Linked DNA regions of Homo sapiens: all the other regions are linked to region 3. The links come from fine-mapping of genetic effects on gene expression. A gene starts in region 3. Each other region holds a variant in brackets. All regions are shown on one strand. Distances are between the middles of the regions.

Region 1 (5,494 bases), 40 kb before region 3:
GCTGGGAGTGTGGGTGACCTGCACGGGTTCCAGGGGCGGGCTCATCTCTCTCCTGTGCTTTTTTCCGTGCAGTGCGGTTTGTGTGGAGTTGGGCTCCGGTGACTCACCCTGCAGGTTCTTTCTCTGGGGTGTGGCTGGTGTCTCCCCGCTGCAGCCTGGTGCTGGCTGGGTCCTGACCGCACCTGTCGTGGCAGGAAACACATTCGTCGTGCCTTGGCTGGTCCCTGTGTGACTGCGTCCCGCCACGTGGGCCACACCCTGGGCCTACCCACCAAGGCCCAGCCTTGGCCCCAGGGACATTCAGCCTGGAGGTGACTGGCTGTGACTCAGGACCCAGAGGAGTAGAGGGAGCCAGGCAGGGGTCCCTCCACCTCGGGGAAGAGCTGGATGGGCTCTTCGGGAGCTCAGAAAGGCTAAGCCTTGAGGGACGGTGACGCAGAGCCGCCTGCCTGCCCGGGCCTCTGCATACCTGGGATCGGGGTGAAGGACCTTTGCCTCCTAGAGGCCTGCCTGAGCCGGGGCTGGTGGTGGAAGGCTGCTGCGGCGGCCCCACGGTGCCCCACAGCAGGTCTGCACACTTGCAGCAGCCCGTCTGACTCACAGGGGCCTGGGCTCCATCTCTCAAGCCCCTCATTTGTGCTCCACCCACAGGAGGTGCTTCCCAAGGACCGTAGATGCCTCTCTAGAGCATGAGCTCAGGCAAGAGTGCCCGCTACAACCGCTTCTCCGGGGGGCCCAGCAATCTTCCCACCCCAGACGTCACCACAGGGGTAAGGGTGTGCCCCTCTGCAAGCCCAACATCCCCAGGACCCCCAGCATGCCCCAGGGATCTGGTGTTGCCTGCAGAGCTCCCAGCGCAGTCCCGTCCCGAGCTGGGGTCTCAGGGGAGCTCGGTGGGGGGGGGTGTGGTGTGTGTGTGTGTGTGTGTGCGCGCGCGCGCGCGCGCGCGCACGCGTGCGTGTGTGGTTGGGGCGTGTTAGTGCTGTGTGGCGCGGCCTGGTTGCATGGTTAAGCGTGTGAGTGCTGCGTGGCGCGGCCTGGTCGCATGGTTAAGCGTGTGAGTGCTGCGTGACCTGGCCTGGTCGCATGGTAAAGCGTGTTAGTGCTGCGTGGCGCGGCCTGGTTGCATGGTTAAGCGTGTTAGTGCTGCGTGGTGCGGCCTGGTCGCATGGTTAAGCGTGTGAGTGCTGCGTGGCCTGGCCTGGTCGCATGGTTAAGCGTGTTAGTGCTGCGTGGCCTGGCCTGGTCGCATGGTTAAGCGTGTGAGTGCTACGTGGCCTGGCCTGGTCGCATGGTTAAGCGTGTGAGTGCTGCGTGGCCTGGCCTGGTCGCATGGTTAAGCATGTTAGTGCTACGTGGCGCGGCCTGGTCGCATGGTTAAGCGTGTTAGTGCTGCGTGGCGCGGCCTGGTCGCATGGTTAAGCGTGTGAGTGCTGTGTGGCGCGGCCTGGTTGCATGGTTAAGCGTGTGAGTGCTGCGTGGCGCGGCCTGGTCGCATGGTTAAGCGTGTGAGTGCTGCGTGGCCTGGCCTGGTCGCATGGTTAAGCGTGTTAGTGCTGCGTGGCCTGGCCTGGTCGCATGGTTAAGCGTGTGAGTGCTGTGTGGCGCAGCCTGGTCGCATGGTTAAGCGTGTGAGTGCTGCGTGGCCTGGCCTGGTCGCATGGTTAAGCGTGTTAGTGCTGCGTGGCCTGGCCTGGTCGCATGGTTAAGCGTGTGAGTGCTGTGTGGCGCAGCCTGGTCGCATGGTTAAGCGTGTGAGTGCTGCGTGGCCTGGCCTGGTCGCATGGTTAAGCGTGTGAGTGCTGCATGGCCTGGCCTGGTCGCATGCTGAAGCGTGTGAGTGCTGCATGGCCTGGCCTGGTCGCATGGTTAAGCGTGTGAGTGCTGCGTGGCCTGGCCTGGTCGCATGCTGAAGCGTGTGAGTGCTGCGTGGCCTGGCCTGGTCGCATGGTTAAGCGTGTGAGTGCTGCATGGCCTGGCCTGGTCGCATGGTTAAGCGTGTTAGTGCTACGTGGCGCGGCCTGGTCGCATGGTTAAGCGTGTTAGTGCTGCGTGGCGCGGCCTGGTCGCATGGTTAAGTGTGTGAGTGCTGTGTGGCGCGGCCTGGTCGCATGGTTAAGCGTGTGAGTGCTGCGTGGCGCGGCCTGGTCGCATGGTTAAGCGTGTGAGTGCTGCGTGGCCTGGCCTGGTCGCATGGTTAAGCGTGTTAGTGCTGCGTGGCCTGGCCTGGTCGCATGGTTAAGCGTGTGAGTGCTGTGTGGCGCAGCCTGGTCGCATGGTTAAACGTGTGAGTGCTGCGTGGCCTGGCCTGGTCGCATGGTTTAGCGTGTTAGTGCTGCGTGGCCTGGCCTGGTCGCATGGTTAAGCGTGTGAGTGCTGTGTGGCGCAGCCTGGTCGCATGGTTAAGCGTGTGAGTGCTGCGTGGCCTGGCCTGGTCGCATGGTTAAGCGTGTTAGCGCTGCGTGGCGCGGCCTGGTCGCATGATTAAGCGTGTGAGTGCTGCGTGGCGTGGCCTGGTCGCATGGTTAAGTGTGTGAGTGCTGCGTGGCCTGGCCTGGTCGCGTGTTAGGCATGTGAGTGGGCTCCACATGTGCACGTCCTCCTTGTGTCCCGGAATGAGGCCAGGTCTCCTCCGTCCTCCCTCTAGACCAGAATGGAAACGACCTTCGGACCCGCCTTTTCAGCCGTCACCACCATCACAAAAGGTGAGCCCTTAAGCCAAGGCCAGCCCAGGCTGGGAATAACCGGGGCACCCCCATGCCCACCCTGCTAAGGACTGAGGGACACTTCCCGGTGAGCTGGTGTTGGGTGCCAGTGCTGGGCGCGGGCAGCCTCACACC[G/C]CAGCCTGTGTCCTCACAGCCTCTCAGCCCTGGGCCTCCCCACTGGACAGGAGTCGGGTGTCCTGCTCCTTGTGCCTCGGTGACTGTGCTGTGCCCTCTCTCCCTGCCCTCTTCATCCCCTCTAGGGAGGCTTGCCCTGACATCTCCAGCACCACCACACAGCCCTGTCCCTTGTCACAGTGATCCCCAGCTTGTCCCCAGTCTCAGGCTCCTGGCCAGCCTCCGAAAGGTCCCGTGTGCCCGGAGGTCTTCTCTTGAGTTTGGCCCTAGGGCTTCAGTAACAGTGCTGCAGTTGTGACATGTTAATAGGAAGGGAGGGAGAGTGGAAGAGATCCATAAGTCTGGTTTGTTTTTTTGAGACGGGTGTCACTCTGTCACCCAAGCTGGAATGCAGTGGCGCAATCTTGGCTCACTGCAACCTGTGCCTCCTGGGATCAGTCCTGCCACCTCAGCCTCCCAGGTAGCTGGGACCACAGGCACCACCACACCTGGCTAATTTTTTTTATGTTTGGTAGAGATGAGGTCTCACCATGTTGCCCAGGATGGTCTCAAATTCCTGGGCTCACGTGATCCTCCTGCCTTGGCCTCCCAAAGTGCTGGAATTACAGGCATGAGCCAGCAAGCCAAGCCCAATAAATCTTCACCTGCACAAGACCACTGGGCGGGATACACGACAGAAACCTGAAGCTTCCCTGCTGCTTCTCAGTCCTATCCCCTAAAAACCAGAGTGCTGCGCTTTGAACGCAAGCGCCGTGCTCAGGGAGACCATGCGGAAGTGGCAGTGCCTTCTTCCCGAGGTGCAGGGCCAGGGACCCTCATTCCGGGGTGGGGTTCTGGGGTGACTTTGTTCTCTCTCCTTTCTGGCACTCTGCCCTTTGTAGAAGCACACTGGCTGCTAATTAGCTTTTTAATTGCTCTGATAAACCTGGCCATGGGGTCATAGGGCCGCCAAGGACACCTGCTTACAGTAGCGCCTCTTTGCTGCTGGTGATCCCCTCAGGGGCTCTCCAGGGGCCCTCTTTTTTTTTCTAATCCTACCCCCCAAAAAACGGTGCCTTTTCATCTACCCTTAGAAGCCCCATGGCCCCTGTCACACGGCGGAAGGTACCCATGATGGGGCAGGGCACGGCTGCTATGCCTGGCCCCTCGGCGGCAGGGATGGGCAGAGCCAGGCAGCAGGGCGCCCACAGGTACCTCACCTGGCCCCTCATGACAGATGGGGAAACCGAGGCCCAGTCACACGGCAGCCTCTCGAGGCCTCAATCTCGAGCCCAGGGCTCATCGTGACATCTGAGCTGGGCTGGTCCTGAGTCCGGGAGGTGTCTCTCTCTGCCTCCCACGTGGACTGACCGGCCGGTAGCCCTGCCCTCTGGCCCTGGCCAAGCTGGGGTGACGTGTGGGCAGGAGGAGGGAGGGCACTTCAGCTCCTGCCCCAGAGGAGGCCACCAAAGCTGGGGCCACTTCCTGGTCCTGGCTGTGCCAGGGACACCAGGATGCGGTCCTGGCCCTTCTGTATCCCAGCCCACACCTCAACCTCAGCTTCCCCCTCTGTGAGTGGAGGCTGTCAGGGAACTCACCTGGCAGAGGTGCCTCAAGAGGCAAATAAAATGGCACCCCCAGCTGCTGCCAGGCGGCCTTCAGAGTGATGGCTGCGTGCTGGCCATGAGCCTCAGCTGGCTCAATTGGGGTGCTGGGGAGCTTGTAGAGGCCCTGAAAGAAGACCCTGCCTGGGGTAGGCAGGGCTGGGGCAGGGGCTACCGGGCTCAGCGCTGGGACTGTCCAGATGTAGACCGAGCCCAGCGTCCATGCTCCTGGCACTGGTTTGACCTTGAGAGGGAACCCAAGCTTCCCCCGTGCCATCCCTGCATGCTTTCCTGCCTGCCTGGCCCTGGGGAGGGCTGTGAGCTACAGGGGACCCACAGGGTCGGGTATCCAGCATGGGCCCCACCTCCCCCACATCTGCTGAGGGAGCCCCCACTGAGACGCCAGCCCTCTTGCCTTGCAGCTGACGGGACCAGCACCTACAAGCAGCACTGCAGGACACCCTCCTCCTCCAGCACCCTTGCCTACTCCCCGCGGGACGAGGAGGACAGCATGGTAGGTCCCTACCCCCAGGAGCCCGTGTGAGCCTCAGCCTCCCCCCATCCTCCCTCCTGGGGGAACCAGGTCCCAGGAGGAGTTGACAGTGAGCTGGTGAGGCACAGGAGAAGAAGAGCACCTGTGGATACCCTGAGGCCTCGGCAGACATGGCAAGTCTGTGAGAAAGGAGGCTCCTGTGGCTGGACTGTGGGTGGCAGGGGGCAGCCAGTGAGGGCAGCTGGGTCAGAGGGCCTGGCACCTGCAGGCCAGGATGAGGCATATTTGGCTCCATCTTAAGGGAGGTGGAAACCACAGAAAGTTCAGTCAGGAGGATAGCACAATAAAATACATGCTTTGAAAGCTTCCTTTGCTGCTGGGTAGGGAATGAGCGGGGTTGCTGGGTCCAGGCAGGGTTTGAGGAGGGGTCCTGATGAGGCGGGGGGAAAGGTGTGTGGACCTAAGCTGTGGGGACACCAGAGGCAATGGGGTGGGGGTTGCGGAACCTGCGCCAAGTGCTGGGGGAGCCGGAGAATTCCCTGTTGCTGGCTGTGTGAGGTGCAGAAAGGATCAGGGCA
Region 2 (5,494 bases), 930 kb before region 3:
GGAGCAGACAGATCCCAGGCCTTCCCGGCAGAGCAGTGGGAAGAATACAGTGGCAGACCCCCTCAGCCTGTCCCTGTGGGGCACGGCTCTGCCCAGGGGCTGTCCAGAGGCTGTCAGACCCAGGAGAGGGTGGGTCACAGCGTTGAGATGACCCAGGGACAGGTACAGGACGCATCCGTGGGCCTGCATCCTCTATGAGCGGGGGGGGGGGGGGGGGCGACGTCAGTGAGATTCCTGTCCCTCATCAGGGTGGCCCCTTTGTCCCTGTGGCAGGGCCTGAGAACAGCTATCGTGTAGCAGGTGACATGGGTGATGGGCCTGGGGACGGCCATCGTGTAGCAGGTGACGTGGGTGAGGGTGCTGGGGATGGCCGTCGTGTAGCAGGTGGCGTGGTTGAAGGCCTGGGGATGGCCATCGTGTAGCAGGTGATGTGGGTGAAGGGCCTGGGGATGGCCGTCGGGTGGCAGGTGACGTGGGTAAGGGTGCTGGGGACAGCCATTGGGTAGCAGGTGATGTGGGTAAAGGGCCTGGGGACGGCCATCATGTAGCAGGTGATGTGGGTGAGGGTGCTGGGGACAGCCATCAGGTAGCAGGTGACATGGGTGAAGGGCCTGGGGACGGCCGTCGGGTAGCAGGTGACGTGGGTGAGGGTGCTGGGGACAGCCATCAGGTAGCAGGTGACATGGGTGAAGGGCCTGGGGATGGCCGTCGGGTAGCAGGTGACGTGGGTGAAGGGCCTGCAGACCCACTCCTGGCCCTGGCCCATGTCTCTGGGCCTCTGCATGGTTGGCACCCTGCCAGCTGGTCTCTGGGCGTCTGCATGGTTGGCACCCTGCCAGCTGGTCTCTGGGCGTCTGCATGGTTGGCACCCTGCCAGCTGGTCTCTGGGCCTCTGCATGGTTGGCACCCTGCCAGCTGGTCCTGGGCCTCTGCATGGTTGGCACCCTGCCAGCTGGTCTCTGGGCCTCTGCATGGTTGGCACACTGCCAGCTGCCGCAGCACCCACCCCAGCACCTGCCCAGCTCTGCCTCCAACTGCAGTGCTGCAAAAGGGACCTGCGCGTAGTGGGCTCTGTGCCGTTGTCCAGGCTGCATCCTGCTTTAGGCACGGGGCCCTCACCACAGTTCTGATCTGTCCCTGATCTCCCCCCGCACCCCACTGTCTGAATACAGAGGCCCCCTCCTCTCTACTGGGGAGCCCAGACATCTAGCCCTTGCCCTGTGTGGTTCTCTCCGGGTGAGGTGGGAGGGACCTGCCGGGAGAGACAACATCCCTGCTGCTTCACTCACGGTGTGAAGCCGGAAGGGACCAGACTCAGACCCCCTCCCGGGCCAGCCTCTCCGTGAAGCCCCTTTCTCCAGCAGGAGAGTGTAGCTGCCCCTCTGGGTGCTCAGGGGCCTTCTCAGCCTCACCTGACCCTCACCTTGGGGGTGGGGGGTGCAAGAGAAAGGAGAATGAAGACTTCCCCATCTCAGGTTGAGGATGCCTGGTGCCCCGTCACAGCCCAGCAGCCTCCCTGACCCAGCCCTAGTCCCAGACCTTCTGCGAGGCGGGCACAGGGCGGCCATATGGGAAGTCTCAGTGCTAAATGCTCCAATGCCCCAGGGCAAACAGTGGCCCAGCAACTAGGGATGTAAACCGTGCTTGGGTTTCCTCAGAAGCCTCCTGTGCCACACCCTGGAGATGCCCTGGGCACTGGGCATGGCTGGGCAGGGCTGCAGGTGGGCACTGGGCAGGGCTGGGCAGAGCTGGGCAGGTTAGATGGGTGGGTGGGTGGACGGACAGATGGACAGATGGACGAGTGGATAGATTCGTGGGTGGGTGGATGGATGGGTAGATCAATAGATAGGTGGATGGATGGATGGATGGTTGGATGGATGGATGGATGGATGGATTGATTAATTAGTGGATAGGTGGGTGGATGGATGGATGGATGAATTGATGGCTGGATGAGTGGATGGATTTAGTACGGGTAGATGGGTAGACAGATGGTAGATGGTTGAAATTTGGTAATGAGGCTGACCTGTTCTTTTAGTGGAGGGCTGGGCTGGGAGCTGGGCCCCCAAGAGTAGAGTCATCACTGAGAATATTTCCCCTGATCTTACCACCCCATTCATCATTTCCCTCCACCACCAAAGAATGTCTGGTCTGGAGCAGCCATTTCTACAGTGCAACTGTCCAGAGCAGATGCACCCACGTCAGGAAGCCCCCGGTCACTGCCCGCCAGCCGCACCCACACTCAGGAACACACTGGCCACTTTCTGGTTTGCCTTGCTAACAGTTTAACGAGACGATACTGCAAACTGGCTCCAGGACTTCCATCCCTAACCTCACCCCCATTCAAAGCACCTTCCATGCCTCCTCCTCCCAGTGTGAGGGAGGAAGGTGATAGGTCTGAAAAGGTGGAGGGGAGTGAGGACCATGTGCGATGGAGGAGCAGAGAAGGTGGGTGCTGGAAGGCGCAGGGAGCGGAGGGGCCAGGACGAGGAAGGAACTGGATTCTTGGGGAGCTGGGAGGAGCCTGGGGCTTAGAGGTGCATTTGCTGCAGGATCCAGGGCACATAGGTCTGGACTCACGTGTAGACGCCAATGCTGGGCCGATCACTGTAAAATCCCCAGCTCACTACTCCCGCCTGGAGCCAGGTACCCTTCTTCTTGCAGACCAGGGGGCTGCCTGAGTCACCCTGTGGAGCAGAGAAGGCCCAGCTTGACCAGAGACCCAGGACCCTGCACATCCAAGTCCAGCATCGGAGCCGCAGACAGGAAAAGAGATGGCAGGAGAGAGGCGCCAGGTCTCACCTTCCAGGTGCGGCGGCCCGTGCGGCCGGCACAGATCATGTCATCCTGGATGAACTTTCTGTCTCCAGCACCAGGAAAAGCATCGTAGGTCTGCCGCTCACAGTCTGCATTGCTCAGTGTGAGGACCTTCACCTGCTGCGGGCGGTAAGGAGGCGGCAGCATATCTGCAGAGACAAGCCACGGGTGGCGGGAGCAGCTCAGGAGGGGCCCCCAACCAGCACCATGGCAGGACCCCTCCCTGCCCCCAGCCTCAGCTCAGGACCTGGGATGCTCAGCCTACACAGCCTAAGGTGGAGTCAAAGGGGCTCCACCTCTAAAGCTGCAGGAACCCAGAAGGGAAATGCCAGGGTAGGGTACAGTGGCATAATCATAGCTCCCTGCAGCCTCCGCCTCCCAGGCTCCAGCGATGCTCAAGCAATCCTCCAGCCTCAGCCTTCCAAGTAGCTGGGACCACAGGCCTACACCACCATGCCCAGCTAATTTTAATTTTTTTAAGATGGAGTCTCACCC[T/G]GTCGCCCAGACTGGAGTACAATGGCACAATCTCTGCTTAGTGCAACCTCTGCCTCCTGGGCTCAAGCAGTTCTCCTGCCTCAGCCTCCTGAGTAGCTGAGATTACAAGCACCCACCACCACGCCCAGCTAATTTTTGTGTTTTTAGTAGAGTCAGGGTTTCACCATGTTGGCCAGGCTGGTCTTGAACTCCTGATCTCAAATGATCCACTGGCCTCAGCCTCCCAAAGTGCTGGGATTACAGGTGCGAGCCACCATGCCTGGCCAATATATATATTTTTTAATTTTTTGTGGAGATGGGGTCTCCCTGTGTTGGCCAGGCTGGTCTTGAACTCCTAGGCTCAAGTGATCCTCCTACCTTGGCCTCCCAAAGTGCTGAGATTACAGGTGTGAGTCACCGCACACACTCCCCCACCACCCTACCACCCCCATCCACCAATACCTTTTAAATTGGGAGCAAAGGGAGATGGGACCCTACACACACACTCTAGAAAAGAGAGGCGGGACCTATGCACACACTCTAGAAAAGGGAGGCAGGACCTACGCACACACTCTAGAAAAGGGAGGCGGGACCTACACACACACTCTAGAAAAGGAAGACAGGACCCTACACACACACACACTCTAGAAAAGGGAGGCAGGACCTATGCACACACTCTAGAAAAGGGAGGCAGGACCTACGCACACACTGTAGAAAAGGGAGACGGGACCCCCACACACTCTAGAAAAGGGAGGCGGGATGTACACACACACTCTAGAAAAGGGAGACGGGACCACACACACACACACACACACACGCTCTAGAAAAGGGAGACGGGACCACACACACACACACACGCTCTAGAAAAGGGAGACGGGACCACACACACACACACACACTCTAGAAAAGGGAGGCAGGACCTACGCACACACTCTAGAAAAGGGAGGCAGGACCTACGCACACACTCTAGAAAAGGGAGGCGGGATGTACACACACACTCTAGAAAAGGGAGACGGGACCACACACACACACACACACACACTCTAGAAAAGGGAGATGGGACCACACACACACACTCTCTTTCTCCCTAGAAAAGGGAGGCAGGACCTACGCACACACTCTAGAAAAGGGAGGCGGGATCTACGCGCTCTAGAACAGCACCAGGTATTGCCTTTCAAAGAACAGAGGCCCGAAGCAGGAAAGGAAGAAAGCTTCAGGGTCTCTGCAGCCTTCAGTGGAGGGATGGACAGATGGATAAATTCGTGCCCTCTTTGAACCCATTTTCTTTTCCACAAAATGAAGAAAATGTCTTGCAATATGTCTATGGGTAAGATACGTGTTCCACACACACACGCACAGCACAGTCAGTGGCTCCTGCCACCCACCCCAAAGGCTCATTTTCTTTGCTCCCTGTTTTATGAGCTTGAATTCCCCAGGGCAGCTCACCTGAACCCTGCACCCCAACCCTAGCAAGAGAAACCCCAGAATGTGCAAACCAAGGGCTTGTCTTTCATGAGCCTTCCCAGGACCCCCCCGCACGCCCGCCCCACGTCCCTCTGGTTCTCACCCAACAGGCCGACCATGCCCCAGCCTGTGTTCCAGCAGTTGTCACTGTCAGTGAACTCCAGGGACTATGACGGCAGGGCGACTGCCGCGAGAGTGTTTGTTGTTCTCACACTGGTGGCCAGCTTCAGCAGGGCGATGTCTGCCCCCAGGAAGAAGACAGAGTAGTTGGGTGGACGACGATCTGGCTGACATTCAGCAGCCCCCGGCCCCCGTACAGATACACATCCCTGGTGTGAATCCGGTAGGTGGACGGGTCGGTGTCCTTCCTGGGGGAGGACAGACCCAGGCTACTCAAGGGACCTGGTATGGGGCGGCCCCACTCCCACCTCCCCTTGGTGGGGTCCCCGGCCCAGGACTCACCGGAAAATGCAGTGAGCGGCGGTCAGCACCCACTGGGGGTGGATGAGGGAGCCCCCGCAGATGGGCACCCAGGAGGCCCAGTGGTAGCTATAGATCCTCAGGCTGACCTGCCACGACCACTTCCCCTGGGGGTGTTGTGGCCCCCCACAATGCCCACCAGGTCATTCTCGGGGACGGGAGCTGGGAACAACAGAAGGAGGTCAGGGAGCCCGGCCTCTGCCACCCGAGCCTCACCCCACGCCTGCCCTCGGGCAGGAGCCGGGCCGTGCACGTGTCCCCT
Region 3 (5,494 bases):
TCAGCCTTCGAAAGTGCTGGGATTACAGGCATGAATCACTGTGCTGGGCTCAGACTGAGGTTTTTAAAAGGCCACTCTGGCCGGGCGCGATGGCTCACGCCTGTAAACCTAGCACTTTGAGAAGCTGAGGTGGGTGGGTCACTTGAGGTTAGGAATTCAAGACCAGCCTGACCAACATGGAGAAACCCTGTCTCTACTAAAAATACAAAATTAGCTGGGATGGTGGTGCATGCCTGTAATCCCAGCTACTCAGGAGACTGAGGAACCCAGGAGGTGGAGGTTGCAGCGAGTCGAGATCGCGCCATTGCACTCCAGCCTGGGCAACAAGAGTGAAAATCCGTCTCAAAAATAAATAAATAAATAAATAAATAAATAAATAAATAAATAAAAGGCCATTCTGCACTGTGGTGGACAGTTTGGAAGGGGGCCAGAGTGGCTGGGGCAAGGAAGGAGGCTTTTATGGGGGATGGGGGTGGTGAGCTAGAACCAGGGCAGTGGAAAGGACAGGAAGGTATATCACAGGTAAAATCGGTGGCTGAAGGGAAGGGAAGGGTGAGGGAGGGGAGGTGTCGGATCTTGCCCAGCTGTAATACAAGGTGGGCACTGCCCACAGAAGGGGAGCTACTCAGGGATGGGTTGTCTTGGCCCTGGAATATGGTGGACCCTGCGGGGCATTCAAGGGACAGTGTCTTAACAGGGAGCTGAGGCCATCAGAGCTGGAGACAGGGTGGAAGGGGCCCAGGACAGGGACAGCATTGGAAGCTCCAGAGCTAGCAGTCATCAGCCCCCTGGTATCTCGTGGGGTGCACAGAGTGAATGCTGAAGGGCCTGAGTCCTTGCGGGCAGGCAGGGAAAGAGACTAAATGTCGGGGACAGGAGCTAGGAGAAGGCAGCCTTTCAGGCATGGTGCCGTCAACCATGGCTCAGATGCGTCAAGAAGTGGGAGGGGGCCGGGCGCAGTGGCTCACGCCTGTAATCCCAGCACTTTGGGAGGCTGAGGGGGGCGGATCACGAGGTCACGAGATCAAGACCATCCACCATCCTGGCCAACATGGTGAAAAGTCTGTCTCTACTAAAAATAGAAAAATTAACTGGGTGTGGTGGCATGCACCTGTAATCCCAGCTACCCGGGAGGCTGAGGCAGGAGAATAGCTTGAACCCGGGAGGTGGAGATTGTGGAGAGCCGAGATCGCACCACTGCACTCCAGCCTGGCAACAAAGCGAGACTCCGTCTCAATAAAAAAAAAAAAAAAAAGAAAGAAGAAGTGGGAAGAGGCCGGGCGCAGTGGCTCACGCCTGTAATCCCAGCACTTTGGGAGGCTGAGGTAGGCGGATCACTTGAGGTCAGGAGTTTGAGACCAGCCTTGCGAACATGGTGAAATCCCGTCTCCACTAAAAATACAAAAATCAGCCAGGTGTGGTGGTGCGTGCCTGTAATCCCAGCTACTCGGGAGGCTGAGGCAGGAAAATCGCTTGAACCTGGGAGGCAGAGGTTTTGCAGTGAGTCGAGATTGCACCACTGCACTCCAGCCTGGGCGAGAAAGCGAGACTCTGTCTCGAGAGAAAAAAAAAAAAAAGGTGGGAAGAAGGAAAAGTATCCACTGGATTTAGCAAAGTGAGATTGTCAGTGACCTTGAGGAATTTCCACTGGAGAGCTAGAGAGCTGGGGGTAAAAGGCAGATGACTGGGGTTGCGGAATGAGTGGGAGGTGAGGACGTGGAACTAGAAAAATGGTGAGGACCGCTCTTTGAAGAAGATAATTTGGGATTGTTTTATGGTGTTTTTTTAAAGGCTAACCGGCAGGAAGGAGAGGAGGTGAAGGTATAGGAAGGAAGGCTCCATGGGAACTATGGCCTGGTCAAGGGACAAGATGCACCCCCTCTGCGGCCAGAGGAAGGGGTGCAGCCAGGTCTGTAAGAGCAGCAGGAAAAAACCATGCGACAGCCTGTCTCAAGGGTGAGGGCACCGGCGTGGAGCTCACAGAGCTGGAATGAGGGCCTGTGGTTTTGAGGGGGACCCTGGGCTCAGTGGGATGTCCTGAGGGTCAGGCTGGGGCTGGGGTGCCAGATCTAGCAAGTAAAACTACAGGATACCCAATAAAATTTTTTTAGCATAAGTATTTCCCATGCAATGTCCTGGATATACTTACACTAAAAAAAAAATTATTCGTTACTTGTCTGAATTCAAGTCCTGTAATTTTCAGCCAATCCTAGCCCAGCGTGGCGCAGTAGTGGGTCAGGGAGGGCACCGGAACAGCGCGACCCGACAGCCCGGGAAACGGACAGCCGTGTCAGAAGGGCAGGTGCCAGTGGGCAGGAGGCCGGAGAGAAAGCCGCAGCTTCCTTCCACCTCGCGCCGGGCCCGCGGCCGCGCACGGGGACCGCTCCGAGTTCCTCCCGGCGGGAACCCCCCGCCCCAGAACTTTGGTCTCGTCCCACCCACCCCCGCCCGCGCCATGGTCTCGCCCTAGGGAGCCATCGATAACTCTACGCTCGGCCTCGATCGACTCGCTCCGGCTCCCCTCGCCGTCCTGGACACGGCGGAGTGCGGAGCCGCCCGTAAGGTACGGAGGCCGCGAGCCAGGGGCCGGGAACCGGCTGCTGGGTGGCTGGGAGAGCACGGCCAGGGGAAGCCGGCCAGCAGGACGGAGCAAGGGCGGTCACCGGAGGAAAGGGGAGCTCGGGGGTCCAGCCAGACTGCGCCCTTTCCCATCAGGGCCTGCCGCTGGCCTGCTACGCATGCGCAGCCGCAGCGCTCGGCTTTCCCCGGCCCATCCGCCGCCTTGCGCACGCGCAGCCCGCCCCTGCGGCAGAGTGGCGCCCGCGCGTGACTCCCCCCTGCCGGCTGCGGAGGTGGGGGGGGGACGGCGCCCCCGCCGTGTGCGTGGGGCGGGGATGGAGCACGCGCCCTGGAGCCCCGGAGCCAGGTATCACGCGTGTGACGCGTGTCCCTGAACCTACCTGCGCTTCTTGTCCCAACTCTAAAATGGGAATGATAAGCGCCATTCGGCAGCGCCTTGTGGGTCTATAATCTACTTAGCACAGAGAGTGTCTTCTAAGTACTTCACATCCTTCTCTGCAGATGCTCTGACCTTTGACCCCTGCCGTTCAGCTCTAGGGCCCGTGCAGGCCACACCATGAACACCTCCCCAGGCACGGTGGGCAGTGACCCGGTCATCCTGGCCACTGCAGGCTACGACCACACCGTGCGCTTCTGGCAGGCCCACAGCGGCATCTGCACCCGGACGGTGCAGCACCAGGACTCCGTATCCTCCACCCGGGGCGGGCAGGGCGGCGCTGGGGGGATGCCTCGTGTGGGGACCACAGCCTGTGTGAAGGCCAGATGGTGGAGGCCTGGGGGGCCCTGGCCTCAGGGCTACCTTCCCGTCATCCTCCTTAACAGTCCCAGCAGGTGAATGCCTTGGAGGTCACACCGGACCGCAGCATGATTGCTGCTGCAGGTATCTGTGATCCTTGATCTCTAAACTCCTGAGCTCTGGTGGGTCGACCTCAGCACAGCCAAGCTTCAGTTCAGCCTGTGTCCCTAGGTTACCAGCACATCCGCATGTATGATCTCAACTCCAATAACCCTAACCCCATCATCAGCTACGACGGCGTCAACAAGAACATCGCGTCTGTGGGCTTCCACGAAGACGGCCGCTGGATGTACACGGGCGGCGAGGACTGCACAGCCAGGATCTGGGACCTCAGGTGCGGTGGGGAGGGGGCGTGCTGCCCGGGGCTGGGGTGGGCTGCTCTGGGAGACCGTTTTAGGTTGGGTTCTCTTCAAGCAGAGGCTGAGACAGGGAGCTTCCTGTGGGCGACTTACTGAGAGAAGTGAGGACAGGAGGAGAGTGAATTGCATCAGAGCGCGAGTCCTGCCTTGAGCCCGGAGCCAGCTTGTTATTCCCCTTCCACCAGCCACTGGCTTAGGCTCCCTGCTGGAGCAGAGGGCCCTGCGTCCCAAGTATTTCCCAAGAGGCAGGTCCTTCAGCAGAGGGAGGGGAGGAATGGCCAGGCCGAGGCCATCTGGGTAGGGCACCAACAAGCCCAGATGGACAGCATGTGCCCCGGCCCGGCCCGCAGGTCCCGGAACCTGCAGTGCCAGCGGATCTTCCAGGTGAACGCACCCATTAACTGCGTGTGCCTGCACCCCAACCAGGTGAGGGGTGCTCATGGGGCCAGGCACCCTGGGACTTTGGAGGGCTGGGCTTGGGCCCTGCCTCACCACCCCTGCACCCCAGGCAGAGCTCATCGTGGGTGACCAGAGCGGGGCTATCCACATCTGGGACTTGAAAACAGACCACAACGAGCAGCTGATCCCTGAGCCCGAGGTCTCCATCACGTCCGCCCACATCGATCCCGACGCCAGCTACATGGCAGCTGTCAATAGCACCGTGAGTCCTGGTGGCAGGTGCTGGGTGCGGGCAGCTTGGCACTCAGCCCTCAGCCTCTGCAGGTGGGCTTATTCCTGGATGTCCCTTAGCGGCCCCCTCCTGCTTTCCCCATCCCGGGCACTAACACCCACCTTGCCAGCAAAGCCAGAAGCCTTAGTGTCGCTCCCGATGGCTTAGTCCTGTCTGCAGGTCGGTCACTCCGCTTTCTGGAGTCTCTCCCAAGTCGATCCACTTCCCTCTTTTCACTCTGTTGCCTCCTGGTCCCAGTCACCCTTGTTTCTGGTGACGGCTGACACACTCTCTGAGGCTTCCTTTCCCCCTCCCTGACCTCCCCTGGCCCCTGACACGTTCTCTCTTGGATGCTTCTAGTGGTGCCTGGTCAGTATCAGCCAGGTGGCGTCATTCCCCTGAGGAGACCCGGGGCTGCTGGCCTCGCCCGTAGGCTGCTGTGGCGTGGCCCCTGCTCTTCTCTCCAGCCTCATTTTTTTTCATTAACTTCATTTAATCCCAGTGCATCACTTGTACCTCTTGCCCCCGGATTTCCCTTCTGCTGGCCTTTGTCATGCTGTCTCTCTAGCTGGTGCCCTTCTCCTGTCTACTTCCGTTGGCCATCGGCATCCTCCAGGAAGGAGAATTTGAGTCCTTGGCCAGGCGTGGCCTCCTGTTCTTGGCTTGCCAGGTGTGGCCCTTGCTTGGGGCCAGGCTTCCCAGGTGCCTTCTGCAGGCAGGACCAGAGGGGCCTGCCTGCCCCTCACCCGGGGTCCCCATGCACAGTTGGCCCCCAGTGTTGGCCCCCAGGGCATCCTTCCCTGTGTCTCAGACCTGAGGCCTTGGGCCCTCCGTGACGGTCCTCCTGACCTCTAGGGAAACTGCTATGTCTGGAATCTGACGGGGGGCATTGGTGACGAGGTGACCCAGCTCATCCCCAAGACTAAGATCCCTGCCCACACGCGCTACGCCCTGCAGTGTCGCTTCAGCCCCGACTCCACGTGCGTGCAGGGCCTGCTGGCCCGGGAGGGGACCTGCCTGGGCTGGGGGCTGGAGAGGGGAGGGGCTGCTGGATGGAGTGGCTGCTGCTGGACACGCCCCATGCCCACC

The links.
Region 1: its variant is fine-mapped to the expression of MLST8 in whole blood (INTERVAL, PIP 0.99).
Region 2: its variant is fine-mapped to the expression of MLST8 in amygdala (GTEx, PIP 0.94).

Annotation. Positions count from the first base shown.
Region 1 is chr16:2,163,232-2,168,725 of GRCh38, forward strand. TRAF7 (TNF receptor associated factor 7) reads left to right here. Exons shown (of 21, transcript NM_032271.3): 2 at 652-770; 3 at 2,648-2,705; 4 at 4,846-4,937. The coding sequence starts at 690. Among named protein-coding and RNA genes, the nearest start is that of TRAF7, 10 kb to the left of the region's middle. RefSeq lists enhancers at 1-240, 241-740, 1,150-1,923, 1,924-2,696. The variant G/C (reference allele first, on the strand shown) is at 2,841.
Region 2 is chr16:1,271,109-1,276,602 of GRCh38, forward strand. It overlaps the pseudogene TPSP1. Among named protein-coding and RNA genes, the nearest start is that of TPSD1, 18 kb to the left of the region's middle. The variant T/G (reference allele first, on the strand shown) is at 3,310.
Region 3 is chr16:2,202,950-2,208,443 of GRCh38, forward strand. MLST8 (MTOR associated protein MLST8) reads left to right here and starts at 2,505. Exons shown (of 9, transcript NM_022372.6): 1 at 2,505-2,563; 2 at 3,082-3,265; 3 at 3,409-3,460; 4 at 3,548-3,710; 5 at 4,086-4,161; 6 at 4,244-4,396; 7 at 5,261-5,385. The coding sequence starts at 3,137. RefSeq lists enhancers at 1,480-2,320, 3,160-3,999, 4,000-4,838 and a silencer at 2,413-3,062.